Linked DNA regions of Homo sapiens: all the other regions are linked to region 2. The links come from fine-mapping of genetic effects on gene expression. A gene starts in region 2. Each other region holds a variant in brackets. All regions are shown on one strand. Distances are between the middles of the regions.

Region 1 (10,029 bases), 110 kb after region 2:
CCCAGGCTGGTCTCAAGCAATCTGCCCACCTTGGTTTCCTAAAGTCCTAGGATTCCAAATGTGAGCCACCACACCCAGCCAAATTCAGCCTTTTTTTTTTTTTTTTTTTTTTGAGACAAACTCTGGCTCTATCAATCAGTGTCTATCAGGGGTATCCTGTTGCTTGTTCCATTACATCCCTATTGATACAGCCTTAGCTGCCAGCCCTGTGATGTCACCATCATACTGCTATAGCCACTGGGCTCAGTCCCCTGAAACTTCCTGTGTGCTCTGCTATGCACATGAATGAGCCTTGTCTCCCCCACCTCTCTGTCCTGGACCTAGGCTGGTGATGTTTTAGGCCCCAGTGAATTTTTTTTAGTTTGACAACGGTTGTCCCCTATCATGACTTCCCTGGAGGCCACTCAGACAATAAAGAAGGAAGCCCTATTTTAATAATGCAGGCTCCATTCCTCATGTCTATGCTTAATGTGGGGACAGTTCTGGAAAGGGAGGACAATAAGTACCCAGAGGTAATGGCGGACTCCCTCCTGGTGTAAATCTAAAACTGCTCAAATCACATGGGACAGCCCAGCCATCCATGTTAGAAATGATGCCATTCTCCTTGGGGAAGAGTCATTGATTCTTCCACTCAACACACTGAGCATCTACTGTGTACACAGCTCTGTGTTAAGTACTGTTTACTTGGATCAGCAGAAGGGCTCAAATGTCAGGAGGTGATGAGTTATATTTATATATGAGAATACAAAAAGATGAACAGGATAGAAATAATCTCTAGTCCTACCCACACAGAACCTACAGGCTACTGAGCAAAACACTTATGTAAATGTGTAATTGCAATGCAGTGTGTAAGTTCCGTAGCATCGGGTAGTACACGAACTGAGGAAGGGCAGGGCAGGGACAGAGCTCCCGAGGAAATGACCTGAGGAGTGAGTAGGAGGGAGCCAGGCAACATGTGAAAAGAAGAGCATTCAGAGAGCAGGACCATCCTGTGCAAAGGGCTGGGGGCCAGACAGCTGAGAGAAACTCAGCATGGGAGGAATGAAGAGTGAAGAGGATGCTCATGAGAGATGAGGTTGGGGAGGTAGGAGTGGGGCAGGCCAGAAAGAGCTCTCGGGGCCAGGCGCAGTGGCTCATGCTTGTAATCCCAGCACTTTGGGAAGCTGAGATGGGTGGATCACGAGGTCAGGAGTTCGAGACCATCCTGGCCAATATGGTGAAACCCCATCTCTACTAAAAATGCAAAAATTAGCTGGGCGTGGTGGTGGGCGGCTGTAATCCCAGCTACTTGGGAGGCTGAGGCAGGAGAATTGCTTGAACCTGGGAGGTGTAGGTTGCAGTGAGCCAAGATCGCTCCACTGCATTCCAGCCTGGGCGATAGAGCTAGACTCCGTCTCAAAAAAAAAAAAAAAAAAAGCTCTCTTGGGGTCTTTGAACAACCTTAAACAAGCAAGTGGTGGGACCAAAATTTCTTTTTGAAATTGCACGTGGAGGCTGGGTGTGCTGGCTCATACCTGCAATCCCAGCACTTTGGGAGGCTGAGGCAGGCAGATCACTTGAGGTCAGGAGTTCAAGACCAGCCTGGCCAACATGGTGAAACCTTGTCTGTACTAAAAATACACACACACACACACGAAATAGCCAGGCATGGTGGTGGGCAACTTTAATCCCAGCTACTTGTGAGGCTGAGGCAGGAGAATCATTTGAACCCGGGAGACAGAGGTTGCAATGAGCCGAGATCGTGCCATTGCACTCCAGCCTGGGCAACAGAGGTAGACTCTGTCTCAAAAAAAAAAAAAAAAAGAAAGAAAGAAAGAAATTGGGGAAGGAGCAGGATTAGAGGCAGGAAGACCATTTAGAATAGGCAGCAATCTATTCTAGAGGCAGCAGTCACAATGAGGAATGAAGAGGGCCTGAGCTAGAGAAGTGGACAGGCTGGCAAGAGGTTAATAGGGTCTGGGGTTAGGGAGAGAGGAAATGCAAGGCAGGCACTCAGATCTGGCACCTAGGACAGGAAATGGAGGAGGGAGAGGAGCAGGCTGGGAACAGGACAAGAGAAAAGAATGAGTCTCAGCATCTAGGCTTTGACTGAAGTTACAGGTTTCATCTTTTTTTTTTTTTTTTTGACAGGGTCTCACCATGTCGTCCAGGCTGCAGTGCAGTGGCATCTGGCTCACAAGCAGCCTTTACCTCCAGGGTTAGGTGAGTCTCCCATCTCAGCCTCCCAAGCAGCTGAGACCACAAGCATGAGCTACCATGCCCAGCTCATTTTTGTATTTTTTGTAGAGACCGGGGTCTCACTGTGTCATACAGGCTTGTCTGGAACTCCTGGGATCAAGCGAACCTCCCACCTCTGCCTCCCAAAGTGTTGCGATTAAAGGCGTGAGCCACCGTACCCAGACTCATCCACTTTGTTATTCAACAGATAGTGAATCCTCCTCTGTGCAAGTCCTGGAATTATGGTTTCAGGATTCATTGGCACAACAGTTGGCAACTGAAATTATGGGTATAGACAGGTCATCTAGGAAAAAAGTGTGTAAAATGAGAAGAAAAGAAGGCCCAGAACAGATCGCTAAGGTACGATTTGTTGTTGTTGTTTGAGACAGTCTTTTTTTTTTTTTTTTTTTTTTTTTTTGAGACAGAGTCTCTCCGTCGCCCAGGCTGGAGTGCAGTGGCGCGATCTCCACTCACTGCAGGCTCCGCCCCCTGGAGTTCACGCCATTTCCTGCCTCAGCCTCCCGAGTAGCTGGGACTACAGGCGCCCGCCACCTCACCCGGCTAATTTTTTGTATTTTTAGTAGAGACGGGGTTTCACCGTGTTAGCCAGGATGGTCTCGATCTCCTGACCTCGTGATCCGCCCACCTCGGCCTCCCAAAGTGCTGGGATTACAGGCATGAGCCACCGTGCCCGGCTGAGACAGTCTTGCTTTGTCAGCCAGGCTGGAGTGCAGTGGTGCAATCTCGGCTCACTGCAACCTCTGCCTCCCAGTTTCAAGCAGTTGTCCTGCCTCAGCCTCCCGAGTAGCTGGGACTACAGGCATGTGCCACCACGCCTGGTTAATTTTTGTATTTTCAGTAGAAACGATATTTCACCATGTTGGTCAGGCTGGTCTCAAACCCCTGACTTCAGGTGATCTGCCCCCTTTGGCCTCCCAAAGTGCTGGGATTACAAGTGTGAGCCACCGTACCCAGCCTGTTGTTTGTTTTTTAAGGGAGGACAGAAGAAGAGGAACCAGCCAGGCAACAAGACACGAAGGAGCCAGAGCAGTTGGAAGAAACCAGGAGAGTGATGTCCCTAAAGCCAGTTTTTTGTTTGTTTTTGAGACAGAGTTTTGCTTTTGTTGCCCAGGCTGGAGTGCAATGGCGTGATCTCGGCTCACTGCAACCTCCGCCTCCTGGGTTCAAGCAATTCTCCTGCCTCAGCCTCCCAAGTAGCTGGGATTATAGGCACCTGCCATCACGCCCAGCTAATTTTGTTTGTCTGTTTGTTTGTTTTTGAGACAGAGTCTCACTCTGTCATCCAGGCTGGAGTGCAGAGACGCAATCTCAGCTCACTGCAAGCTCCGCCTCCCGGGTTCACGCCATTCTCCTGCCTCAGCCTCCCGAGTAGCTGGGACTACAGGTGCCCACCACCAAGCCCAGCTAATTTTTGTATTTTTAGTAGAGACGGGGTTTCACCGTGTTAGCCAGGATGGTCTCGATCTTCTGATCTCGTAATCTGCCCACCTCGGCCTCCCAAAGTGCTGGGATTACAGGCGTGAGCCACTGCGCCCGGCCTGTTTGTTTTTTGAGATGGAGTTTTGCTCTTGTTGCCCAGGCTGGAGTGCAATGGTGCTATCTCAGCTCACTGCAATCTCTGCCTCCCGGGTTCAAGAGATTCTCCTGCCTCAGCCTCCTGAGTAGCTGGGATTACAGGTGCCCACCACCATGCCTGGCTAATTTTTGTATTTTTAGTAGAGACGGGGTTTCACAATGTTGGTCAGGCTGGTCCTGAACTCCTAACCTCAGGTGATCCGCCCACCTTGGCATCCCACAGTGCTGGGATTACAGGCATGAGCCACCGTGCCCAGCCCCTAAAGCCAGTTCAGATGACCCTGAAGACAGGGTCCTCAGAAGCCTAGGGTGTCACATGCATCCATGCTTCCAAGTCCACCAGTAAGATAAGGTCTGAGGTGCATCATTGCTAATCTGTCATAGAGCAATTCAAGGGTTCGGGTTGGGGTTGAGGCCAGACTAAGGAGAGCTGGGCAGTGGGAGGGATAAGTGGAGATAATAAGTGTCCTTCAAGAGGATTGGTTGTGAAGAGGAGAGAGAAGGTGAGAGGTGAAGAAAGGACAAGGGGTGTAAGGAGCTTCCCCAGCAAGCTGCAAGACCTGACCATGATTCAATGCTCATGCAAAATGCCAGCTGAAAAGGGGAGGTTGAATACACAGGAAGGGAGATAGACCATTAGGCAGGTTTTCTCCAAAAGCCTCATGATGCATAACTAAGATTGGGGTTTGAGAATTGGAGGATAGAGAATTTAAGTTTGATATAAAGAAAAAATAAGGAACAAAAGAACAGACCTGTGAATCAGTGGAAAGGTCTTTGCAGACAAAGATGGGACTGTTGGTACTTGTGAATACTGCAGAAAGAGATCCTAGCTCCATATACAGGTTGGACAAAATGAGGGCTGAAGTGCCTTTCAAAGATTTAAATTCTTGATCCCATCCCACATTTTATTTTATGGCGAGGGGGTGCACAATTTACAAATGAACTACATATTTCTGATTGAGAATGGCTAATAAAATTCTCATTATTTCATTCAAGGTCCCTAAATACCCACTGTGTTCCAAGCACTGGGTTGGGACACAGCAGATCTGAGTTCCATACACTAAGCCTTTTCCACTTAATGTCAGTTATTTAAATGGATCAGGTCAAGTGCGATAGTGCGCACCTGTAATCTTAGCTACTCAAGAGGCTGAGGTGGGAGGATGGCTTGAGGCCAGGAATTGGAGGCTGCAGTGTGCTATAATCACACCTGTGAATAGCCACTGCACTCCAGCCTAGGCAATGTGGCAAGATCCCATCTCTAAAAATAAAAATAAACAATTTTAAAAGGGCTGGGCATAGTGGCTCACATCTGTAATTCCAGCACTTTGAGAGGCCAAGGCCGGAGGATTTTTTGAGGCCAGGAGTTTGAGAACAGCCTGGGCCACAAAGTAAGATCCCCATCTCTACAAAAAAAATTTAAAAATTAGCTGGGCATGGTAGCATGTACCTGTAGTCCAGTTTCTTGGGTGGCTGAGGCAGAAGGATCCCTTGAACCCAGGAGATCAAGGTTACAGTGAACTGTGATCACACCTCTGTACTCCAGCCTGGAGTACACTGGGCAACAGAGTGAGACCCTGTCTCTTAAAAAAAATAAAAAATAAAAAATGGGATCAATTTCTGTATAAGTCATTGTTTGCACTCACCTTGTTGGTAAACTGGGAGCAGCTGCGGCTGGAGGACAGTTGAGGCATGTTATCTTGGGATTGCTGAATGCTGCAGTTCACAGTGGGGAGGATCTCCACTTC[A/C]TTCCTTCTTTACCATCTCAAGAGCTCCTGAGAAAGCTGGAGGTTTGGCCGGGTATGGTGGCTCATGCCTGTAACCCCAGCATTTTTGGAGGCTGAGGCGGGCAGATCACTTGAGGCCAGGAGTTCAGGACCAGCCTGGCCAACATGGTGAAACCCTGTCTCTACTAAAAATACAAAAATTATCTAGGCATGGTGGTGCGCACCTGTAGTCCCAGCTATGTGGGAGGTTGAGGCATGAGAATCTCTTGAACCAGGAGGTGGAGGCTGCAGTGAGCCAAGATTGTGCCACTGCACTCCAGCCTGATCGAGAGAGTGAGACTCCATCTCCAAACAAAAAAAAAAAAAAAAAAAAAAAAAAAAGGAAAAAGAAGAAAGGTGGAGGTTTTTGGAGCATTCTCAGAGTGCAGTATTTGTTTCTAAGTCTCAGCAGGGGATGTAGAGATGGGGCAGAGGCAGGTGGTTCTTCCATTCCACCCCAAACCTCACTGGACTCAGACTCTCAGGGATACACTATAATGACTGCTAACTTTGGTAGCACCTGCACCTAGTGTAGCTTCCTAATGCTTCCGTGAATCCCAGGGAGAACACTGTAAAATGATCATATGATCTTTTATTTCTCACTTAATTCATTCTGTGTCATTCCATTGGTTTGTGAATTGTGTCAATAGATAGAAAGTTTGGACTGTGGGTGTCTGGAAATATATCCACCCCTTCTACATTAATTCTTATGAAAAAATATTTTATTCACCTTTTTTACTGTAAGATGAATTTCCCAGTAATGTAACCTTGATGCAAATAAATGCTCTAACCGTTGTGCCAAAAGTTGCAATTAATAAACCCAATGTCTTGTTCTTCTTCTCAACCCAATTCTAAAATGAGGGTTTTCTCTAAGATGCAAATTCTAACACACACGAATAATCTTCTCATATAAGGTTGATGGTTTCTCTAACACAAAACTCTTAACAGTCTGGATATAAAGTGGCTGTACTAGGATGTATTCAATTTCATAAAGTTCTCTACAGCTTGTAGCTCCATTAGAAACAAATCTCAGCGTCTCAAAAACCCTCAGAAAACTAGGAATAGAGGGAACTTCCTGAATTTGATTAAGAACATCTACAAAACCCTGCATTTAATACTATACTTAATGGTGAAAAATGGAATGCTTTCTTTCTAAGATTGGGAACAAGGCAAGGATGTCCACTCTCACCACTCTTATTCAACATACAACTGAACATTCTAGGCAGTGTAACAGGCAAGAAAGAAAAGAAAAGAAAAGGCACACATTTCAGAAAGGCAAAAATAAAATGGTCTGTATTTGCAGATGATACGATGTGGTAGAAAGTCCCAAAGAATCTACACACACACACACACACACACACACACACACACATACACACACACATACACACATACAAAATTCCTAGAATCTATATACTAATGAACATATGGAAACCAAAATTAAAAATAAAATACCATTTATAATCACTCAAAACATGGAATATTTGGGTGGAAATCTAACAAAACATGTATAGGATTTCTATGCTGAAAACTATAAAATGCTGATGAAGGAAATCAAAGAATATCTAAATAAACTGAGAGGTAAAACTGTGTTCATGGGTTGGAAGACTAAACATAATAAAGTTGTCAATTATTCCCATATTGGCACACTTTCTATCAAAATTCCAACAAAATCTATTTCTTGCAAATATTGACAAAACTTTTCTAAAATTTATGTGGAAAGGCAAAGGAACTAGAATAGCTAGAATAATTTTAGATGGTTTATTAAAATTTAGCTAATTTTAGAGAAAAATCAGTCTACCTAAGTTCAAAACCTGTTATATGGTCACAGTGTGGTTCTGGCCCAGGAATAGCACACAGATCAATGGAACAGAACACAGAACTCGGAAACAGAGCCACACAACTATTTTTGACTGCTGATTTTTGACAAAGGTGCAAAAGCAATCAATGGAGACAAGTCTTTTCAACAAATGGTGCTGAAGCAACTGGACATCTATAGGCCCCAAAATCAACCAAACAACAAAACTTTGACATAAGTCTCATATATTGTACAAAAATTAACTTAAAATGGACCTCAGTGCCAGACGTGGTGGCTCACGCCTGTCATCCTAACACTTTAGGAGGCCAAGGAGGGAGGATCACTTGAGGCCAGAAGTTTGAGACCAACATGGCAAGACCTTGTCTCTACAAAAAACACAAAAATTTGTTGAGCATTGTGGGGCACACTTGCAGTCCCAGCTACTACAGAGGTTGTGGTGGAAGGATCGCTTGAGCTTGGGTGATGGAGGCTGCAGCAAGCTATGACTGCATCACTGCATTCCAGCCTGGGTGACAGAGCAAAATCCTGTCTCAAAAAAAAAAAAAGACCTCAGACTAAAATGTAAACATAAGACCATAAGACTTTCTGCTCACTTTGGCAACACATAAACCAAAACTGGAATGATACAGAGTAGATTAGCATGGCCCCATGTAAGGATGATATAAAAATTTGTGAAGCATTTCATATTTTAAAAACAATTCTATAAAAAATTTAGAAAAAAAAAAGAAGCACAGGAGAAAACATTTGGGATCTAGAGTGAGACAAAGAGCTCTTAAACTTAGCCCCCAAAACATGATTCATAAAAGGAAACATTTATATATTGGACTTTGTCAAAATTAAAAGCTTTTGCTCTGCAAAAGACCTTGTAAAGAGGATAAAAAGACAAGCTACAGCTACAGACTGGGAGAAAATATTTGCAAACCACATACCTGACAAAAGGACTAGTAACTAGAAATATGAAGCACTCTCAAAACTCAACAGCAAAAAAACAAGAATAGAATTAGAAAATGGGCAAAAGACATGAAGAGATTTCACTGAAGAGGATATACAGAAGGCAAATAAGCACATGAAAAGATGTTCAACATTATTATTAGCCATTTGGGAAATGCAAATTAAAATCACAATGAGATATCACTGCACTCCTCTCAGAATGGAAAAAATGAAAAATAAGGACAACACCAAATGCTAGTGAGAATGCAGAGAAACTGATCAATTATATATGTCTGGTGAGAATGTAAAATCATACAGCCACTCTGGAAAACAGTTTGGCAGTTTCTTATAAAAATGAAACATGTGCCAGGCACAGTGGCTCACGCCTGTAATCCCAGCACTTTGGGAGGCTGAGGCGGGTGGATCACTTAAGGTCAGGAGTTCGAGACCAGCCTGACCAACGTGGTGAAACCCATCTCTACTAAAAATACAAAAATTAGCCGGGCATGGTGGTGCATGCCTGTAATCTCAGCTACTCAGGAGGCTGAGGCGGGAGAATCGCTTGAACCCAGGAGACAGAAGTTGTGGTGATTGAGATCACACCACTGCATGCCAGCCTAGGCAACAGAGTGAGACTCCATCTCAAAAAAATTAAAATAAAATAAAAAATAAATAAAAAGGAACACACTACCCATACACAAAACAACCAGGATGAATCTCCAGGGAATCATGCTGAGGGAAAAAAGCCAGCCCCCAAAGGTTACAGAACTGCATGGTTCTGTTTATTAAAAACCCTCTTAAAATGACACAATTATAGAAATGGAAAATATTAGTGGTTGGCAGAGGTTAGGGAGGGGGTGGGGCTGGAGGGAAGTGGGTGTGGCTATACAAATCAAAATGATGGGTTTATTGGGGTGTTATGGGGTGATTCAGAAAATCCAAGGAAGGGTCTCAAAAGAGTTGAAACTGGGCAGCTCTGGGCAACTCAGTTGGCAGAAGTTTATGGACTTGCCATTCCTCATGATTTCCGGGCTACAGAGTCATCATTAGCAGAGAGAATCGTGAGAGAAGAGAACCTGGTTGATAGAGCTTTGGAAGGATAGCCAAACATCAAGGCTGGGCACAATGTCTCATGCCTATAATCCCAGCACTTTGGGAAGCTGAGGTGGGAGGATGACTTGAGCCCAGGAGTTTGAGACTAGCCTGGGTAACATGGCAAAACCCCATCTCTACCAAAAAACATTATCTGGGCAGGGTGGCACACATTTGTGGTCCCCAGCTACTCAGGAGGCTGAGGTGGGAGGATCACTGAGCCTGGGAGTTCAAGGCTGCAGGTGCCACTGCATTCCAGCTTGGGTGACAGAGTGAGACCCTGTCTCAAAAAAAAAAAAAAAAATCCACATCCTTGTTATTATTTATCTTTCCAATTTTAAATATCCTAGCAAGTGCGAAGTGGTATCTCACCATGGGTTTGGTTTGCATTTCCTGATAGTTAACTATGTTGAGCATCTTTTCATGTGCTTATTGACCCAGAGATGATCTTCTATCACATGTCTGCATCAGGTTGGTCAGCTTCCGGGGACAGTATCACACGGCGGAGCCCAAGTTACTATGGGGCGCTCTGGTTCCTGGGGTTGTTTTCAGAGATGACCATGAGGAAGCAGTGTGGTGAGAAAGGTCTCCCATGAAGATACGGATTTTTTT
Region 2 (10,029 bases):
TTTCTCCTGCCTCAGCCTCCCCAGTAGCTGGGATTACAGGCGCCCACCACCACGCTCAACTTTTTTTTTTTTTTTTGTATTTTTAGTAGAGATGGGGTTTCACCATATTGGTCAGGTTGGTCTTGAACTCCTGACCCGCCCACCTTGACCTCCCAAAGTGCTGGGATTTTTAGTAGAGACGGGGTTTCACCATATTGGTCAGGCTGGTCTTGAACTCTTGATCCACCCACCTCAACCTCCCAAAGTGCTGGGATTATAGGCGTGAGCCATAGTGCTTGGCCTATGAGGGTATTTCTAATAGAGGAGAGAGTGTACACAAAAGTAAATGAGAAATGTCATAGCATATGCAGGGAACAAGCTATTTTGATTGGCTGGAGTATGAAATAAGAGGCAGAGAATAATGAAAGATGAGGAAACACTGGGTATACATAAGTAAGGATATCTTCAATTGAAAGCAACAGAACATATGAAATAAACTAATTTAAGCAATAAAGAGAGCTTATAAGCTCATAGTGCTAAAATATCTAGAGGCAAGGTAAATTTCAAGTTAGGCTTGGTCCAGTAGCCTACTGCCCCTCTAGAATGTAAGCTCCATGTGGGCAGTTTTTCTGTCTCATTTATCGCTGCATTCTCATTGTCTAGTACATTGCCTGCAACGGAGTAGGTACTCAAAAAATTCATGTTGCATAGAAGAAAAGATCATATATGTCTAAACTGATTAATGTGGAAATTGAAAAAGTAAAATAATAATATATATAATATAATCCCACTTATGGAAATTTGTTACATATTTACCTTCTTAAACACATACAGGTATGTTTGGAAAGCTATCTGGAAGGATATGCACCACATGCTGTGTTTTATTTTTTGTTTGTGTTTGTTTTTTTGAGACAGAGTCTTGCTCTGTTGCCCAGACTGGAGTGCAGTGGCACAATCTCGGCTCACTGCAATCTCCACCTCCCAGGCTCAAGCGACTCTCGTGCCTCAGTCTCCCAAGTAGCTGGGATTATAGGCACGCACCAACATGCCCATCTAATTTTTTTTTTTTTTTTTGTAGAGAAGGGGTTTTACCATGTTGGCCAGGCTGGTCTTAAACTCCTGACCTCCAGCAATCTGCCCATCTCGGCCTCTCAAAGTGCTAGTATTACAGGTGTGAGCCACCACACCTGGCCAATATTCACCAATTTTTTTAACAGTGGTTAATCTGGGTGGTGAGATTTTTTAATTACCTTTAAATTTAACTTCGTAATTTCTATAATATTTGAAGTTTTTTCAATAATCACAAATTAGGCCAGGCGCGGTGGCTCACGCCTGTAATCCCAACACTTTGGGAGGCTGAGGTGGGCAGATCACCTGAGGTCAGGAGTTCGAGACCAGCCTGGCCAACATGGTGAAACCCCATCTCTACTAGAAGTACAAAAAAAAAAAATAATTAGCCAGGCATGGTGGTGCATGCCTGGAGTCCCAGCTACTCAGGAAACTGAGTCAGGAGAAGCACTTGACCCTGGGAGGCAGAGGTTGCAGTGAGCCAAGATCACGCCACTGCACTCCAACCTAGGTGAGCGAGACTCCATCTCAAAAAAAAAAAAAAATCACAATTTTTTTAAGTAATAACATATTTCAAAAGAAAAAAAATGGCCAGACACTATCAATATAAAGTCCAAGGTTTCCATGGCTACCACTTTGAATTTATTGATAACTTTTTTATTATTCTCACATTTCATGACAGCGTTATCAATTTCTGAGAGATGATATAAAGACACTTCAGACTTTATTTCCTGCTTCCTTAAATCTACCCTACCAGCATAAGCAGTAAGACTATAGGTCTGGGGCTGTCCCTCACAGTATCTTTCATTACTCTTCACTTCTAGAAGCTACTTTATTTGATATATATAAATATCATATGCAACATACATGTAAGTTATACGGCATAATATGATGAAACCCCGTGTATACACCACCCATCCCAAAAACTAGAGCGTTACTAACGACTTGTTCTTTTTAGGTTGTTTTTCTCTTACCTCACACCCTTCTTTTCCCTCTGAGATAAACAGAAGCCTGAATTTGATCTTTATCATTCACTTCCTTTTAGAGAATGATTTTGTTACATGTACATGCATGCCTAAACAGTATTTCATTGATTTTTGTCTTTAAGATCTATAAAAACTGGCACCAAACTGTAAGTTGTCTTCTCAGACTTGCTTTTTCTCTCTCAATATTATGAGGCTAAGATCCATACATACTCTGTATGTTTTTGACAACTTTAATTTTTGTTCAAGTATGTTTACAGGCATTGTTTTTAGTTTTTTGTTTTTTCTTTTTAATCCTCATCCATGCTTCTATGGAACAGATATAGTAGACATCTTAAAAATGAAGAAACTGAGGCCAAACGACCTGGCATATCTTCTTTATGTCTGGAAGATAAATGGCCAAAAAAGACCCCTAGCCCAGCCACAAAATCCCTGTGTCTTCTTTTCATTTGTTCAAGAAACATTTTCTGGCTGATACTCTGGGCACACTGCCCATGAGTTAGCTCTGCTCCACAAAGAGAAGAAAAAAAAAAGAAAGAAAGAAAAGAAAAGAAAAGAGAAAAGAAAAAGGAAAGAAAAGAAAGGAAAGGGAGGAAAGGGAAAGAAAGGAAAGAAAAGAAAAGAAAGAGAGAAACACTATTTTCCAAGTGTCTACAATTGCCAGACATTGTGTTAAGTTTGGAGAAAAGATACAAACCAAGAACTCTTACTACAGTGGAATTTAATAGTTGAGGAGACTATCACACCATGCTTCAATATCATGGGAAATGTCCTGTCAGCAGTAAAGTAATCAAAGACTTCTGCCCTTGACTCTTTGATTTGGGGCCTAGGAATTTATATTATAGCTGATTTATCACTTCACTAAATCAGTCTATGCCTGTTTTTCACAGATTACACATATGATATGATAAATATAAGTGGCTGCCAATTAGATTTACTTCTATCCTCTAATTAGATTTACTTCTATCCTCTTTGTGCATCTCCTTAAGAACATAAGCAAGACAACACTGGATTAGCAATGAACTGGAAGTATACTCAAGAGCTACTTTGAAAGAGTTCTTCTAACTCTGCTACTCTAAAATGTTTGGGACCACTCTCAAAATACCAAATATCCATATCCTAGTACGTCTGAACTCTTCTGGGACATATTTATACATTCTCTGTGCCCTCCTGGGGATAATGCTATGAAATATAAATGCTATTTGAAGCAGAGACCTGACACCGTTTGCCAAGGGGAATTCTGGTCTTCTTCTTCTTGCCTATCTCAAAACGACAACAACAAAAACCCAAAAGAACAGTAAACACCTACCATTTTGGTAAGCACTGTGCTAAGGACTTGGGGTACAAATATGAACCAGTTCTCGTCCTCAAGGGTTTCCAGTACATTGACAGAGAAAGACAAGTAAATCAACAATTCTAGCTAGGTGCCTTTGCAGGGATAGAGATAAATAAGCACAGGTATGACAAAAACCAGCACAAGAACCTCATGGAAATGGGGAGAAGTGGTTCCTCAAAGGAGCATGAGAGAATTAGGACTGGTTTCAGAATGGAGAAAGGATAAAAACAACACAGGGCCACTACACTAGCTGTGTGACCATGGGAAAAACTAGCTTCTCTCTCTGAATCCGTTTTCTCATCTATAAAACAAGGGATACTACCTACTTTGGAAAGCTGTAAAAGTACTAATAAAATAGGAAAGCATCCAATAAAATAGAAGGTGCCCAGCAAGGAGTGCTTTTTAAAGTCCCTGCTCAGGCTTTTTCCTCATTTAAACATTACAACTGTATTAACTGTGTAATAAGTAAAAAGCCAGCAAGCAATCAATGTGGGGTTTTTTGTGTACAGGATTGTCTACACGTCTTGCTCTGAAAATAAGTTCAGGTCCTTTTCATTTCCACCTGTACTATTAAATTACCCTTCTTAGGCTTTCTGTCCCCACTGCAAGTTCTTCCCCTTCTCAAAATACTCTAGACGAATCCTCAACACTCCTAGAGTTTCTTGTGTTATGCTAACTCTTTAACTTTAAACTTTTCATATTCTCCACTGTTAACAGACTTTGTATTTCTTAGCCTGGTACTCAAGTTTCTTCACAATCAGAATCCAAAGGTTCCCACCTCCCTGTTCCATCCAACACTTTAGACTTCTAGCTCCCCAAACCTATACTGTGTAGACTTCTGAGCCCTGGCTTCTGCGTTTTCCTTCCTGTCAAAATATGAGACCTGTAATCGGCAGTGTGCAACAATTTTTTTTAAATAAGCACATTTGGCCAGGTAATAGCACTTCCAAGAAATTTAACAAAGTTCAAACTTTAGAATGTACACAAACATTTCGGCTTCAAGAGCTTTCTTTTAGAACAATGCAAACTGGCAATAACTTAAATGCTCAGTAACAGGAAGCTGGTTAAATTAGAGCACATATCTAAAACAAAGCGTTAGGCTGGTTGCAGTGGCTCATGCCTGTAATCCCAAAACTTTGGGAGGCTAAGGCAGGTGGATTGCTTAAGCCCAGGAGTTTGAGACCAGCCTGGGCAACACGGTGAGAGCTTGCCTCTACAAAAATTAATAATAACAAAACAAAGTGTTAATTTTTTTTTTTTTTTTTTGAGACGGAGTCTCGCTCTGTCGCCCAGGCCGGAGTGCAGTGGCGCGATCTCGGCTCACTGCAAGCCCGCCTCCCGGGTTCATGCCATTCTCCTGCCTCAGCCTCCCGAGTAGCTGGGACTACAGGAGCCCACCACCACGCCCGGCTGATTTTTTTGTATTTTTTAGTAGAGACGAGGTTTCACCGTGTTAGCCAGGATGGTCTCGATCTCCTGACCTCGTGATCCGCCCACCTCGGCCTCCCAAAGTGCTGGGATTACAGGCATGAGCCGCTGCGCCCGGCCCAAAGTGTTATAATTAACATTAACTGCCCTGTTAAGATTTTTTTTTAAATTATTTTAACGTTACTAAACAGGTCGTATAGTACCTCACTTTCCAAGTGTGTATGCAAAGAAACAAGCGTGGAAGGTAGACACCAAGATATTGACAATGGCTTTCTCTGGCAGGTTATTTTAATTTTCTTCCATTTGCTTTCCAGTTTCTAAAGCTAATATATTCCTCTATGAAAACGTGTGAGTAAAGAGAAACAAATTCATGCCTTGTCTTTCTAGGCCCAATTTAAAACTATTTTCTCCCCCAGAAACTTTCCCCCTTCTCTGTCCTCATTCCTACAGCGCAGGATGCCTCTCTATGGCATTTATTAATTCCTAACCCGCCTAACACCATCTCCCATACGCTATGGCAAGGAAACCCCTAAGAGAAAAGCCCCTACGCTGCACGTAGCTGCTCCAGCTACTGAGCCAAGACTACGCAGACAGTACAAGTCTTATAACAAAGCGGAACAAGCCAGATGACGTCATCCCGCTCGCCAAAGCACATCACGTGGTCTCCGCAGCACGTGACCCGTGCCTTCGCCGTAGGTAAAAGAATGACGCACGTCAGTTCCAGATCGTGCGTTTTACACCCCTCTCGGCAACGAAGTCCGCTGCCTGGGCCTAAACCTCTCCAGAGTGTGGCACCGCCGGTGTTGGAAGTTACCTGTCTCCAGAGCCGGCTTAACGCAGCCGCACGGGGTCGCTGTAGGCCGAGGCCCCGACTCCTCCAAGCCGCGCATGGCTACTGGTTGCTGAGGTGCCCACCCGACGCATTCAACCTTCCGCTTCCGCTCTCCATGCCTGACGCATGCGCAGTGGCCTCGCCGGCGAGGTCCCGCGAACCCAGGAGAATGTGCGCGCGCAGGGTGGCGTTGAGGGAAGCTTTGAGTTCTCCATGGGGCTTCGAACCCTATCCCGGGCGTGTGCCCCTCCGGGACCCCAATCTCGTTTATCTTACACACAGCTGCTACAGTTGCCCGCCCTCCTAGGGTAGAATGCGACTCCGGCTTCCCGCGCTTTTTGAGAGGGAACACACCTCCATGAAGAACTCGCAACTATGTCTCTCTCGAAACATTATTAAGTAACCTATACGTCCAGTATGACCCTAATTTTTAAGGGATGTGTATATGTAATTAACACAGAGCGGAAGGACTGGACGTTAAGAAATGTTAAGAATTCTCAGGCACCTGTGGTCCCAGCTACCCAGGAGATTGAGGCGGGAGGATCGCTTGAGCCCAGGAGTTTGAGGCTGCAGTGAACCGTGATCGCGCCACTGCACTCCAGCCTGGGTGACAGAGCGAGACCTCGTATCAAAAAAAAAAAAAAAAAAAAAAAAAAAAAAAAAAAAAAAATTATCCCTGGGTGGTGGGAAATTTTTCCATAATATAAGTTATGCTTTGTCAGAAACAACCCCAAATAAGTCTTATTTCAAGTGTGGTGGATGTTATAAAGGAGCCCTACTATGTGCTAGGGGTTAAGGAGTGGGAACTGTTTCTTGTGCTCCACACCTTACCGGAACTGAAGTGAGAATGGAATTATAAGAGTCAACATGCCATGTGCATTGTGGGGATTATTGTCGTTTCTGGACAGCTCTGAGAAGCTAAGAGCTAACAAGAATCATTTAATCCCATGCAATGACCAGTTGTCCTTGCAATGATAGCCTATCTTTTACCCACTTGTAATGCTGTCTCTCACCTTTAGTAAGTTTCTCTGTATATAATTCTCTTTCTGGGAGAAATTTTAAAATCTTTTATCTTTTTATCTGTTAACATCTGCAGTATAAAATATTCAAAAGCATATGAGTCACAGATTGAAAAGTCTAACAACCATGAAAAGATGTTTCCATGTCTGTCCATTTGTCATTGATTTCTGGTAGAAAATAACCAGCAGGAGGAGCCAAATAATTAAAGATTGTGGTTTAAAAAATAAGATAAAACTGATCAAATTCATATAGTGTCTTTTGGCAGGTCATTTTTACAGGACAACTTGGAAAAGGCTGCCATTTTTTTTAGGAGGGACAGCTCTGTGCAGCTGGAGAAACAAGTTTGAAAATCATTGTTTTATATATATATAGCGCGCGCGCGTGTGTGTGTATGTGTGTGTTTATAAAACTGGGCCAGAATTACTGCGCTTGCCACTAGATGGTGGTGTTGCTAAAAATGATAGTCCCGCTTTATCTGTGGAAAGACTAGATTTAAAGAGATATTTGCCCTCCTGGAGGGCATGGTAGACGTTGTTAATCACACAAAAAAATATGTAATTACCAAGTGTGACAAGTACTGAAATGCAAAGCTGATTTGAATATACTAGGGAAATAGATTGCTACTTCTTTTATAGGTAAAATTTCTCTTGACTGAAAACGGGAACTTAAATATGCAGCACATTTTTTAGTCTATGATTTGAAGTTCTTATTATCTTGTCTGGAATTATATGTGATTATTTGCAGTTTATAAGACTTAACCTCTCCTCCAGATGTAAGACCTAGAAATCTGCCTTAAAGAAATGACCTAAATAATTATGTAGTCTTCAGCTTGTACTACTTTGAGAAACACTTCTCAGTAGAGTGATTCTTAACCTCTCATTTGGGTGAAGGACCCCTTTGAGAATCAACTAAAGCTTTGAACCGTCCCACACATCATTTTGGCTATAATATCATATGGTTCATGGGTTTCTAACCTAACATGAGAGGAGGGCAGCACAAAGTCAAGCTAGAAGGATTCTTGCAAAACTTTAATTCTGTCACCTAAAGGTTCTAAGCCAAGAAGAACGCCAGAAGAATTTTAGATGCACAGTGATGTTTAAACAAGAATGGTGAGAAAGCAGAAGTGGTGTGTGAATGCAGGGAGTGATGTAAGAGGGCAAGCAGAAAGGGTCCCGAGAGGTGGAGAGAGAAATTCTGCTTCCTCTAATGTACTGCATTCCTCTTTCCCTCTCCTTCCCCATCTCATCTTTGTGCTCCTGTGCACTGTACGTATGCAAATCTCTTAAGGTCCATCTTAATGCAACGCTGTTAGAACTTGAGACTTCAGTTTACTCTTTTTTTTCCTCTAATTTTGGCCCACTCTGGCAGGTGAAATTGAGACAGAAGCACATTCCAAAGAAGAAAAAAAAGCACTGAGGAAGTCAGATGTGACTTTGGGTGAGTACCTTCCCTCTATGTTATTCCCTCATCTTTAAGTGAGAGTGATAATCACCGCCTGGCCTATTTCACATACTTTTGTACAGATCAAATAAAATAGTTTATGTGAAAGTATAAATGTTGAAGTGTCATTGAGAGGTAAGAAACTATTATATGGTTGTGGCCGGGCGCGGTGGCTCACTCCTGTAATCCCAGCACTTTGGGAGGCCGAGGAGGATCACGAGGTCAGGAGATTGAGACCATCCTGGCTAACATGGTGAAACCCCGTCTACTAAAAATACAAAAAAAAAAAAAAAATAGCCAAGCGTGGTGGCGGGCGCCTGTAGTCCCAGCTAGTCGGGAGGCTGAGGCAGGAGAATGTCGTGAACCCAGGAGGCGGAGCTTGCAGTGAGCCGAGATGGTGCCACTGCACTCCAGCCTGGGCGACAGAGTGAGACTCCGTCTCAAAAAAAAAAAAAAAAAAAAGAGACGAAACTATTATGTGGTTGTGCTGCCCTGCCCTCAGTATGTTGTGTAATAAATATAATAGGGGTATGAATAATTGTGCAATGAATACATCCTGATGGTAAAAAATTTAATGTACACACAAAAGGGGGTAGGCAGATAGGAGGGAAACAATATTGTAACATCCCACTGTACTATTGGTTCTCAACCCTACCTCCACTTTAGGATTGTCAGGAGAGCTTTTAAAATAAAAACATCCTAAATGCAATTCTATATCCTGGATTGGACCCTGAAGCAGACAAAGCACATTAGTGGAAAAATTCATGAAAACGGAATAATGTCTGTAGTTAATGGTAGTGTAACTATCCTGATTTCTTAGTTTTGACAAATGGCCCATGGTTATGTAAGACGTTAACATTGGTGTAAACTGGGCGAAAGGTATATAGTAACTTTTGTACTATCATGACAACTTTTCTGTAATTCTAAAATTATTCCTCCAAAAACTATTATTTGAAGCATAAAACAATTAAAAAATAAATATACCTATGCCTGTACATCAGCTAGATGGGGGAATCTGAATCCCTGGGGGAGAAGTCTGGACATATATGTATTTTTGAAACCTTCCCAGGTGAGTCTAATGTACCAGAAGGGTTGAAAGAACCACTGCTCTCTCATGTTCATTATACCATGAATGCCTGAGGGACTGTGACCCTGTCTTGTTCTTTGATATAGCTAGTACCTAGCACAGTGTCTATATGGAAAGCTTGTGCAAGTGTGTTCTTGCTGAATGAAACTTTATTTGCAAAAATATCCTTAGTCCTCTGTAATAACAGAAGGAAAAGTGAAAACAAAAAATACCAGGGTAGATTTTCAGACATCTTCCCATCCAGAACAGCTTCTATTCCTGCCCCGGTCTCTTGTCGTTTTCAGTTAATCTTTACCATTATCACCATATTTACCATATTCCTAAAATAGTGAAATTGCCATTCCATTGTTCAAAAATCTGACTTCATTCCCCATTTTTAACAAGTGATATATTTCTTGGTTAGGTAAGCAAAATATTCTATGCTCTAGTAATATGAGCTTTTCAGCATGCAAGCCTACTACTATTTCATATGGACTCTACATTAACCATAGTTTGCCTGCAGTTCTCTTGAACATGTTTTGAACTCACCCTTCTCTTTGTCACATACAGTAATGCTGCTATCCTCATCTATGCAAATACTTTCCGTCTTTCAAGGCTTCATGCCTGTGTAATTTTTTCAGGTCACTCCAGCAAAAAGTGAGCATTCTCTGTTTGTATCTACCATTCAAATGGCACCAGCCCTTACTATTTTCTTTTGTGATTATTTGTTTTCTGTTTTATTTCCCCATGAAACCAAATTAACCCCACCGTGGGGTGTTAGATAGGTCTTCTAACCTCCGCAATTCTTAACATGATGGTATCCACACAGTTAAGCATGTAATAATGATTTAATGTACATTGTGCACAAATACAATAT
Region 3 (10,029 bases), 28 kb after region 2:
GAAAAGCTCCCTAAGTGGCTATCTGCTTTCATCTGCCCTCACCCTCCCAAGTCCATCCTGCACAAACATCCAGAATATTCCTGCTACAGCTGGCTCTGAACCAGTCACTTCCATGTTTAGAATCCTGTAAAGCCTCAGTATTGCCTGCAGAATAAAGACTAAATTTCCCAGTCTGGCATTTAAGTCTAACTTCCCAATGTTCTTTCCCATTACTTTCCTGGAACTACCCAATGTTTCCATTAAATAGTACCACTTGCCTTCCCTGTTTTGCCGTGAATCTTTCTAACACCCACAGTACCTATCTTCATAACTTCTGGTTGTTCAGTCTTCTGTCATATGTCTGCCGATCCAGATAGTGAGTGCCTTAATCACAAAGCCTTTGATGATGATGATGATGACAACGATGACAATGATATGATGAGACTTTAGTCACTCTACAAACTCATAATGGGTAGCTGACACTTTATATGCAGTATCTCATTTCATTTTTCCAACTAATAGTATCCCCATTTCACTGATAACAAAACCATGGTTTAAAGAGGTTATATCCCTAGATCACATAAACTCATGAGTGGCAGAATTAGGGCTCAAAACTAAGGCTGTCCGACTGTAAAGTTTAGGGATTTAACCATTCTGTTCTATTCCCTTTAATTGCCTAGATGTGGTCTCTCCTTTCTGAGCTATAACCATGCTTGATTTTAGCCTCTTTTGTAGTGAATGTTACATAACTTTTTTGCACATCTTTATATATATATATATATATATATATATATACATCTTACCATACATATATATACATATATATATATATATATACATCTTACCATACATATATATACATATATATATAAATACTTTAAGTTCTAGGGTACATGTGCACAACGTGCAGGTTTGTTACATAGGTATACATGTGATATGTTGGTTTGCTTCACCCATTAACTCGTCATTTACATTGGGTATTTCTCCTAATGCTATCCCTCCCCCTGCCCCCCACCCCCAGACAGGCCCCAGTGTGTGATGTTCCCCTCCTTGTGTCCAAGTGTTCTCATTGTTCAATTCCCACCTATGAGTGAGAACATGCAGTGTCTGGTTTTCTGTCCTTGTGATAGTGTGCTCAGAATGATGGTTTCCAGCTTCATCCACTTCCCTGCAAAGGACGTGAACTCATCCTTTTTTATGGCTGCATAGTATTCCATGGCATATATGTGCCACATTTTCTTAATCCAATCTATCATTGATGGACATTTCAGTTGGTTCGAAGTCTCTGCTATGGTGAATAGTACTGCAATAAACATATGTGTGCATGTTTCTTTATAGTTGCATGATTTATAATCCTTTGGGTATATACCCAGTAATGGGATCACTGGGTCAAATGGTATTTTTAGTTCTAGATCCTTGAGGAATCACCACACTGTCTTCCACAATCGAACTAATTTACATTCCCACCAACAGTGTAAAAGCATTCCTATTTCTCCACATCCTCTCTAGCATCTGTTGTTTCCTGACTTTTTAATGATCGCCATTCTAACTGGTGTGAGATGGTATCTCACTGTGGTTTTGATTTGCATTTCTCTGATGACCAGTGATGATGAGCATTTTTTCATGTGTCTGTTGGCTGCATAAATGTCTTCTTTTGAGAAGTGTCTGTTCATATCCTTTGCCCACTTTTTGATGGGGTTGTTTGTTTTTTTCTTGAAAATTTGTTTAAGTTCTTTGTAGATTCTGGATATTAGCCCTTTGTCAGATGGGTAGACTGCAAAAATTTTCTCCCATTCTGTAGGTTCCCTGTTCACTCTGATGGTAGTTGTGCTGTGCAGAAGCTCTTTAGTTTGATTAGATTGCATTTGTCTATTTTGGCTTTTGTTGCCATTGCTTTTGGTGTTTTAGTTATGAAGTCCTTGCCCATGCCTATCTCCTGAATGGTATTGCCTAGGTTTTCTTCTAGGTTTTCTATGGTTTCAGATCTAACATTTAAGTCTTTAATCCATCTTGAATTAATTTTTGTATAAGATGTAAGGAAGGGATCCAGTTTCAGCTTTCTACATATGGCTATCCAGTTTTTCCAACACCATTTATTAAATAGGGAATCCTTTCCCCATTTCTTGTTTTTGTCAGGTTTGTCAAAGATCAGATGGTTGTAGATGTGTGGTGTTATTTCTGAGGCCTCTGTTCTGTTCCATTGGTCTATATCTCTGTTTTGGTACCAGTACCATGCTGTTTTGGCTACTGTAGCCTTGTGGTATAGTTTGAAGTCAGGTAGCGTGATATCTCCAGCTTTGTTCTTTTTGCTTAGGATTGTCTTGGCAATGCGGGCTCTTTTTTGGTTCCATATGAACTTTAAAGTAGTTTTTTTCCAATTCTGTGAAGAAAGTCATTGGTAGCTTGATGGGGATGGCATTGAATCTATAAATTACCTTGGGCAGTATGGCCATTTTCACAATATTGATTCTTCCTATCCATGAGCATGGAATGTTCTTTCATTTGTTTGCGTCCTCTTTTATTTTGCTGAGCAGTGGTTTGTAGTTCTCCTTGAAGAGGTCCTTCACATCCCTTGTAAGTTGGATTCCTAAGTATTTTGTTCTCTTTGTAGCAATTGTGAATGGGAGTTCACTCATGATTTGGCTCTCCGTTTGTCTGTTATTGGTGTATAGGAATGCTTGTGATTTTTACACATTGATTTTGTATCCTGAGACTTTGCTGAAGTTGCTTATCAGCTTAAGGAGATTTGGGGCTGAGATGATGGGGTTTTCTAAATATACAATTACGTCATCTGCAAACAGGGACAATTTGACTTCCTCTTTTCCTAATTGAATACCCTTTGTTTCTTTCTCTTGTCTGATTGCCCTAGCCAGAACTTCTGACACTATGTTGAATAGGAGTGGTGAGAGAGGGCATCCCTGTCTTGTGCCAGTTTTCAAAGGGAATGCTTCCAGTTTTTGCCCATTCAGTATGATATTGGCTGTGGGTTTGTCATAAATAGCTCTTATTATTTTGAAATAAGTCCCATCAATACCTATCTTATTGAGAGTTTTTAGCGTGAAGGCTGTTGAATTTTGTCAAAGGCCTTTTCTGCATCTATTCAGATAGTCATGTGGTTTTTGTCATTGGTTCTGTTTATGTGATGGATTACATTTATTGATTTGCATATGTTGAACCAGCCTTGCATCCCAGGGATGAAGCCGATTTGATCGTGGCGGATAAACTTTTTGATGTGCTGCTGGATTTGGTTTGCCAGTATTTTATTGAGGATTTTTGCATCGATGTTCATCAAGGATATTGGTCTAAAATTCTCTTTTTTTGTTGTGTCTCTGCAAGGCTTTGGTATCAGGATGATGCTGACCTCATAAAATGAGTTAGGGTGGATTCCCTCTTTTTCTATTGATTGGAATAGTTTCAGAAGGAATGGTACCAGCTCCTATTTGTACCTCTGGTATAACTGGGCTGTGAATCCATCTGGTTCTGGACTGTTTTTGGTTGGTAGGCTATTAATTATTGCCTCAATTTCAGAGCCTATTATGGGTCTATTCAGAGATTCCACTTCTTCCTGGTTTAGTCTTGGGAGGCTGTATGTGTCCAGGAATTCATCAATTTCTTCTAGATTTTCTAGTTTATTTGTGTAGAGATGTTTATAGTATTCTCTGATGGTAGTTTGTATTTCTGTGGGATCAGTGGTGATATCCCCTTTATCACTTTTTATTGCATCTATTTGATTCTTCTCTCTTTTCTTTTATTAGTCTTGCTAGCGGTGTGTCAATTTTGTTGATCTTTTAAAAAAAAACAGCTCCTGGATTCATTGATTTTTTGAAGGGTTTTGTGTATGTGTGTGTCTCTATCTCCTTCAGTTCTGCTCTAATCTTAGTTATTTCTTGCCTTCTGCTAGCTTTTGAATTTGTTTGCTCTTGCTTCTATAGTTCTTTTAATTGTGATGTTAGGGTGTCCATTTTAGATCTTTCCTGCTTTCTCTTGCGGGCATTTAGTGCTATAAATTTCCCTCTACACACTGCTTTAAATGTGTCCCAGAGATTCTGGTATGTTGTATCTTTGTTCTCATTGGTTTCAAAGAACATCTTTATTTCTGCATTCATTTCATTATTTACCCAATAGTCGTTCAGGAGCAAGTTGTTCAGTTTCCACGTAGTTGTGCGGTTTTGAGTGAGTTTCTTAATCCTGAGTTCTAATTTGATTGCACTGTGGTCTGAGAGACAGTTTGCTGTGATTTCTGTTCTTTTACATTTGCTGAGGAGTGCTTTACTTCCAAATATGTGGTCAATTTTGGAATAAGTGTGATGTGGTGCTGAGAAGAATGTATATTCTGTTGATTTGGGGTGGAGAGTTCTGTAGATGTCTATTAGGTCTGCTTGGTGCAGAGCTGAGTTCAAGTCCTGGATATCCTTGTTAACCTTCTGTCTTGTTGATCTGTTTAATATTGACAGTGGGGTGTTAAAGTCTCCCATTATTATTGTGTGGGAGTCTAAGTCCCTTCGTAGGTCTCTAAGGACTTGCTTTACGAATCTGGGTGCTCCTGTATTGGATGCATATATATTTAGGATAGTTAGCTCTTCTTGTTGAATTGATCTCTTTACCATTATGTAGTGGCCTTCTTTGTCTCTTTTGATCTTTGTTGGTTTAAAGTCTGTTTTATCAGAGACTAGGATTGCAACCCCTGCTTTTTTTTTTTTTTTTTTTTTTGCATTTGCTTGGTAGATCTTCCTCCATCCCTTTAATTTGAGACTATGTGTGTCTTTGCACATGCGATGAGTATCCTGAATACAGCACACTGATGGGTCTTGACTCTTTATCCAATTTTCCAGTCTGTGTCTTTTAATTGGGGCATTTAGCCCATTTACATTTAAGGTTAATATTGTTATGTGTGAATTTGATCCTGTCATTATGATGTTAGCTGGTT[AT/A]TTTGCCCGTTAATTGATGCAGTTTCTTCATAGCATTGATGGTCTTTCCAATTTGGCATGTTTTTGCAGTGGCTGGTACTGGTTGTTCCTTTCCATGTTTAGTGCTTCCTTCAGGAGCTCTTGTAAGGTAGGACTGGTGGTGACAAAATCTCTCAGCATTTGCTTGTCTGTAAAAGATTTTATTTCTCCTTCACTTATGAAGCTTAGTTTGGCTGGATATGAAATTCTGGGTTGAAAATTCTTTTCTTTAAGAATGTTGAATATTGGCCCCCACTCTCTTCTGGCTTGTAGAGTTTCTGCTGAGAGATCCGCTGTTAGTCTGATGGACTTTCCTTTGTGGATAACCCGACCTTTCTCTCTGGCTGCCCTTACATTTTTTCCTTCATTTCAACCTTGGTGAATCTGACAATTATGTATCTTGGGGTTGCTCTTCTCAGGGAGTATCTTTGTGGTGTTCTCTGTATTTCCTGAATTTGAATGTTGGCCTGCCTTGCTAGGTTGGGGAAGTCCTCCTGGATAATATCCTGAAGAGTATTCTCCAACTTGGTTTCATTCTTCCCGTCACTTTCAGGTATGCTGATCAAACGTAGATTTGGTCTTTTCACATAGTCCCATATTTCTTGGAGGCTTTGTTCATTTATTTTTACTCTTTTTTCTCTAAACTTCTCAATTTATTTCATTAATTTGATCTTCAATCACTGATACCCTTTCTTCCACTTGATCAAATTGGCTATTGAAGCTTGTGCATGCATCACGTAGTTCTCATGCCATGGTTTTCAGTTCCATCAGGTCATTTAAGGTCTTCTCTACACTGTTTATTCTAGTTAGCCATTTGTCTAATCTTTTTTCAAGGTTTTTAGCTTCCTTGAGATGGGTTCAAACATCCTCCTTTAGCTCGGAGAAGTTTGTTATTACCGACCTTCTGAAGCCTACTTCTGTTAACTCATCAAAGTCATTCTCTGTCCAGCTTTGTTCTGTTGCTGGCGAGGAGCTGCGATCCTTTGGAGGAGAAGAGATGCTCTGGTTTTTAGAATTTTCAGCTTTTCTGCTCTGGTTTCTTCCCATCTTTGTGGTTTTATCTACCTTTGGTCTTTGATGTTGGTGACCTACAGATGGGGTTTTGGTGTGGATGTCCTTTATGTTGATGTTGATGCTATTCCTTTATGTTTGTTAGTTTTCCTTCTAACAGTCAGGTCCCTCAGCTGCAGGTCTGTTGGAGTTTGCTGGAGGTCCACTCCAGACCATTTGCCTGGGTATCACCAGCAGGGAGGCTGAAGAACAGCAAATATTGCAGAACAGCAAATATTGCTGCCTGATCCTTCCTCTGGAAGCTTTGTCCCAGAGGGGCACCCGCCTGTATGAGGTGTCAGTCGGCCCCTACTGGGAGGTTTTTCCCAGTTAGGCTACACAGGGGTCAAGAACCCACTTGAGGGGGCAGTCTGTCCATTCTCAGAGCTCAAACACCATGCTGGGAGAACCACTGCTCTCTTCAGAGCTGTCAGACAGGGACATTTAGTCTACAGAGGTTTCTGCTGCCTTTTGTTCAGCTATGCCCTGCCCCCAGAGGTGGAGTCTATAGAGGCAGCAAGCCTTGCAGCAGTGAACTGGTGGGCTCCGCCCAGTTCAAGCTTCCTGGATGCTTTATTTACCTACTCAAGCCTCAGCAATGGCGGATGCCCCTCCCCATGCCGGGCTGCTGCCTCGCAGGTTGATCTCAGACTGCTGCACTAGCAGTGAGCAAGGCCCCATGGGTGTGGGACCTGCCGAGCCAGGCACAGGATATAATCTCCTGATGTGCTGTTTGCTAAGACTGTTGGAAAAGTGCAGTATTTGAGCAGGAGTGTACTGTTTTTCAGGTACAGTCTGTCACGGCTTCCCTTGGCTAGGAAAGGGAAATCCCCTAGTCCCTTGCACTTCCCAGGTGAGGCGACACCCATCCCTGCTTTGGCTTGCCCTCCGTGGGCTGCACCCACTGTCCAACCAGTCCCAGTGAGATGAACCAGGTACCTCAGTTGGAAATGCCGAAATCACCCATCTTCTGCATCAATCACACTGGGAGCTGCAGACCAGAGCTGTTCTTATTAGGCCATCTTGGAATGGACCTCTAATATTTTTTATTTTATTGCTTATGTGTACACATCTTTTCTATTATATTCACTCAGCAAACATTTATTAAGCATTTATTTCTTACTAACCCCTTTGCTAAGAATTGGAGACAGAGAGAGAAATCAAATGAGAGTCTTTTCCTTCAAGGAACTCACAGCCTAATTGAGGGTGGTAGACAGCAAGTAAACCTGGATTTAGAATATAATACAGTGTGATAATGTTCTTTCTTTATTTACTTATTTAAGAGACAAGGTCTTGCTCTATCACACAGGCTGAAGTGCAGTGGTGCAATCATAGCTCACTGCAGCCTCTAACTTCTGGGCTCAAACGATCCTCCCGCCCCAGCATCCTGAACAGCTAGGACTACAGGCACATGCCACCATGCCCAGCTAATTTTTAAAACATTTTTTTGTAGAGATAGCATCTCACTATGTTGCCCAGGCTGGTCTCAAACTCCTGGCCTCAAGCCATCCTCTTGCCTCAGTTTTCCAAAATGTTGGGATTACAGGTGTGAGCCACTGCACTCAGCCCAGTGTGATAATTTTAATATCAATATTTCTAAATGTTCTGAGCATAGAGATGGGGTGCTTAATGCTGCTACCATGGGATTGGAAAGACAAGGCTATTACATTGTTCATCCTATGGGTATAATTGTCTTTATTCATACTGCCTTGGAAAGACCCTGCCATCAGTCAATCAGTTGGGAAATGAAGAGGCATTATATGTATATAATAGTGTTACATTCACTTTTATTTATTTCACAGAAATAATAATAGCCAATATTTAAAGTACTTGCTTATCACATCTCAAGCACTGCTCTAAGCACTTTACGTATAGTAACTCATTAGTCTTTACAACAGTCTTTAAGGTAGGTGCTATTGATACCTCTATTTTATAGAAGAAGCAACTGAAGCACAGGCTTTAAATCTGTGCTCTAAGACACTCTCCTAGTAAGTAGCAAAGGTAGGTGGCTTGAATCTAGAGGCCATATGCTTAACCACCTTCCTCTCCTATCTCTCAATTCTACTTCCTTAGTATTTAATAAAATAAGGTAGCAATATATTTTCTTTTGTAATTCTTTCCCTCTCCTTTCTCCCCTTTCTCCCCCTCCTTCACACTCCCTCTGTTTCCATAATGATTTGTTGACTACCTATTCTATGCAGGGTGTTGGGGACGCAAAGGCAAATATAACAACAACAACAGCAAAAGACATACTTAGAAAATTAAGGGAACACTGAGGAGAGAGATGTCTAAACAGGATGGAGAGAGGAGGTCAAAGAAGCCCTCCTGGAAGAGATGATCTTGAGCTTAGTTTTGAAGGGTGAATAGGAATCAACTACTAGGATACAGCAAGGCTTAGGGGAAAAAACACAGGCTCTGGAATCAGATCCAAGTTCATTCAAATCAAGTTGTGTGTGACCTTGGGCAAGTTACTTAAAATCTTCCAGGCTCAACTCTCTGCGTATGTAGAATAGGCATTATAATACCTACCTTTTGGCCAGGTGCAGTGGCTCACGCCTGTAATCCCAGCACTTTGAGAGGCCGAGGTGGGCCGATCACCTGAGGTCAAGAGTTCAAGACCAGCCTGACCAACATAGTGAAACCCTGTCTCTACCAAAAATACAAAAATTAGCTGAGCATGGTGGTGCATGCCTGTAGTACCAGCTACTTGGGAGGTTGAGGTGGGAGAATCAGTTGAACTCAGGAGGTGGAGATTGCAGTGAGCCAAGATCGTGCCACTGCACTCCAGCCTGGGTGACAGAGCGAGACCTTGTCTCAAAATAATAATAATAATATCTACCTTTTAAGGCTGTTGTGAGAATAAGAATGATGACTTACGGAAAGCATCCTGCACAGTGCCTGCCACAAAGCAGACCGTATGTGCTGGCTGTTATCATGATTGTTTATAATCTCATTAATAAAAAGTGAAATAGAACCACCAAATAATAAAGCTAAGCAGAGCATTAAGAGTTATTATGTAGATAAGGAAATGGAGACCCAGAGAGAAGCCAGTGTCACACAGGCTGAGTGGCAGTTGGAACTGGAATCCAGATCTTCTGACAGTCTACTTTTTTCTTCGCCTATCTGACATTCCAAACTCCTTTGTTTACAAGTCAATCCACCTCATCCCCCAGGATAACAAAGAAGTTCTCAAACTTTCCAATTGTTTGTACTCTACCTTTGTGATTTTTACCATGTTCTTGTATTGACGTGCTTTTATGCTATTATTTACTTAGTTTTTTTTTTTTTTTCAAATAAACTCATTTTTACTAAAAGTACTTTAAATTAAACTTTAGCTGGGGCAACAGAGAAACCTCATCTCTACCAAAAAAAATTTTTTTTTAAATTAGCCAAGCATGATGGTGTGTACCTGTGTTCCCAGCTACTTGGGAGGCTAAGGTGGGAAGATTGCTTGAGCCCAGGAGTTCAAGGCTGCAGTGAGCCATGATCACACTACTGTACTCCAGCCTAGGTAGCAGAATAAGACCCTCTCTCAAAAATAAATAAATAAATAAATAAGCAAATACAGTGAAAATTTCATATCATTATCGTAAATGGAAAACCAAAAATATCACCTGTGAAATCATAGGTTTGTGGTATAATATAGTTCTTCAAAGACATCTTAAAATAAATACTGAAATATTAAAATAAAAGGCGTTTCATCAAAAATTATCTGCGCTGCCCTGAGTGGCATGCATACTACTTCTTAGGAAATGCTGGCCTATAGAGTGAATTATTTTCCTTTCACAGAAATTCTAGATCATGTACAAATCTATCCTAAAACAAAACTGCCCTTTTCAGTGGCTGGTTTATATTCAGAAGGCACAGAACATAAGACCCAACTCACTCCCTGGCCTGCCACCGACCCACTGTTATTCGTATCAGCTATCACTGGTCCTTAGTTGAATACTAGTCTCACCTCTTTTAGCTAACTTCTCTACTCCTTGGAGTTTTAGATCCCTGGCATAAAACATGTACTAGAACCTAATATGATAAAGTGCATTTGTTTGGAAAC

What was found.
Region 1: its variant is fine-mapped to the expression of TRMO in whole blood (TOPMed, PIP 0.98).
Region 3: its variant is fine-mapped to the expression of TRMO in whole blood (TOPMed, PIP 0.92).

What each region holds. Positions count from the first base shown.
Region 1 is chr9:98,024,250-98,034,278 of GRCh38, forward strand. It overlaps the pseudogene RNU6-918P. Among named protein-coding and RNA genes, the nearest start is that of NANS, 27 kb to the right of the region's middle. The variant A/C (reference allele first, on the strand shown) is at 5,559.
Region 2 is chr9:97,916,810-97,926,838 of GRCh38, forward strand. It overlaps TRMO (tRNA methyltransferase O), which reads right to left and starts at 5,691. Exons shown (of 5, transcript NM_016481.5): 1 at 5,609-5,691. The coding sequence starts at 5,684. HEMGN (hemogen) reads right to left here. Exons shown (of 4, transcript NM_197978.3): 4 at 9,982-10,029. RefSeq lists an enhancer at 5,294-5,743.
Region 3 is chr9:97,944,511-97,954,539 of GRCh38, forward strand. It overlaps a transcript of HEMGN not described here. Among named protein-coding and RNA genes, the nearest start is that of HEMGN, 11 kb to the left of the region's middle. The variant AT/A (reference allele first, on the strand shown) is at 4,907.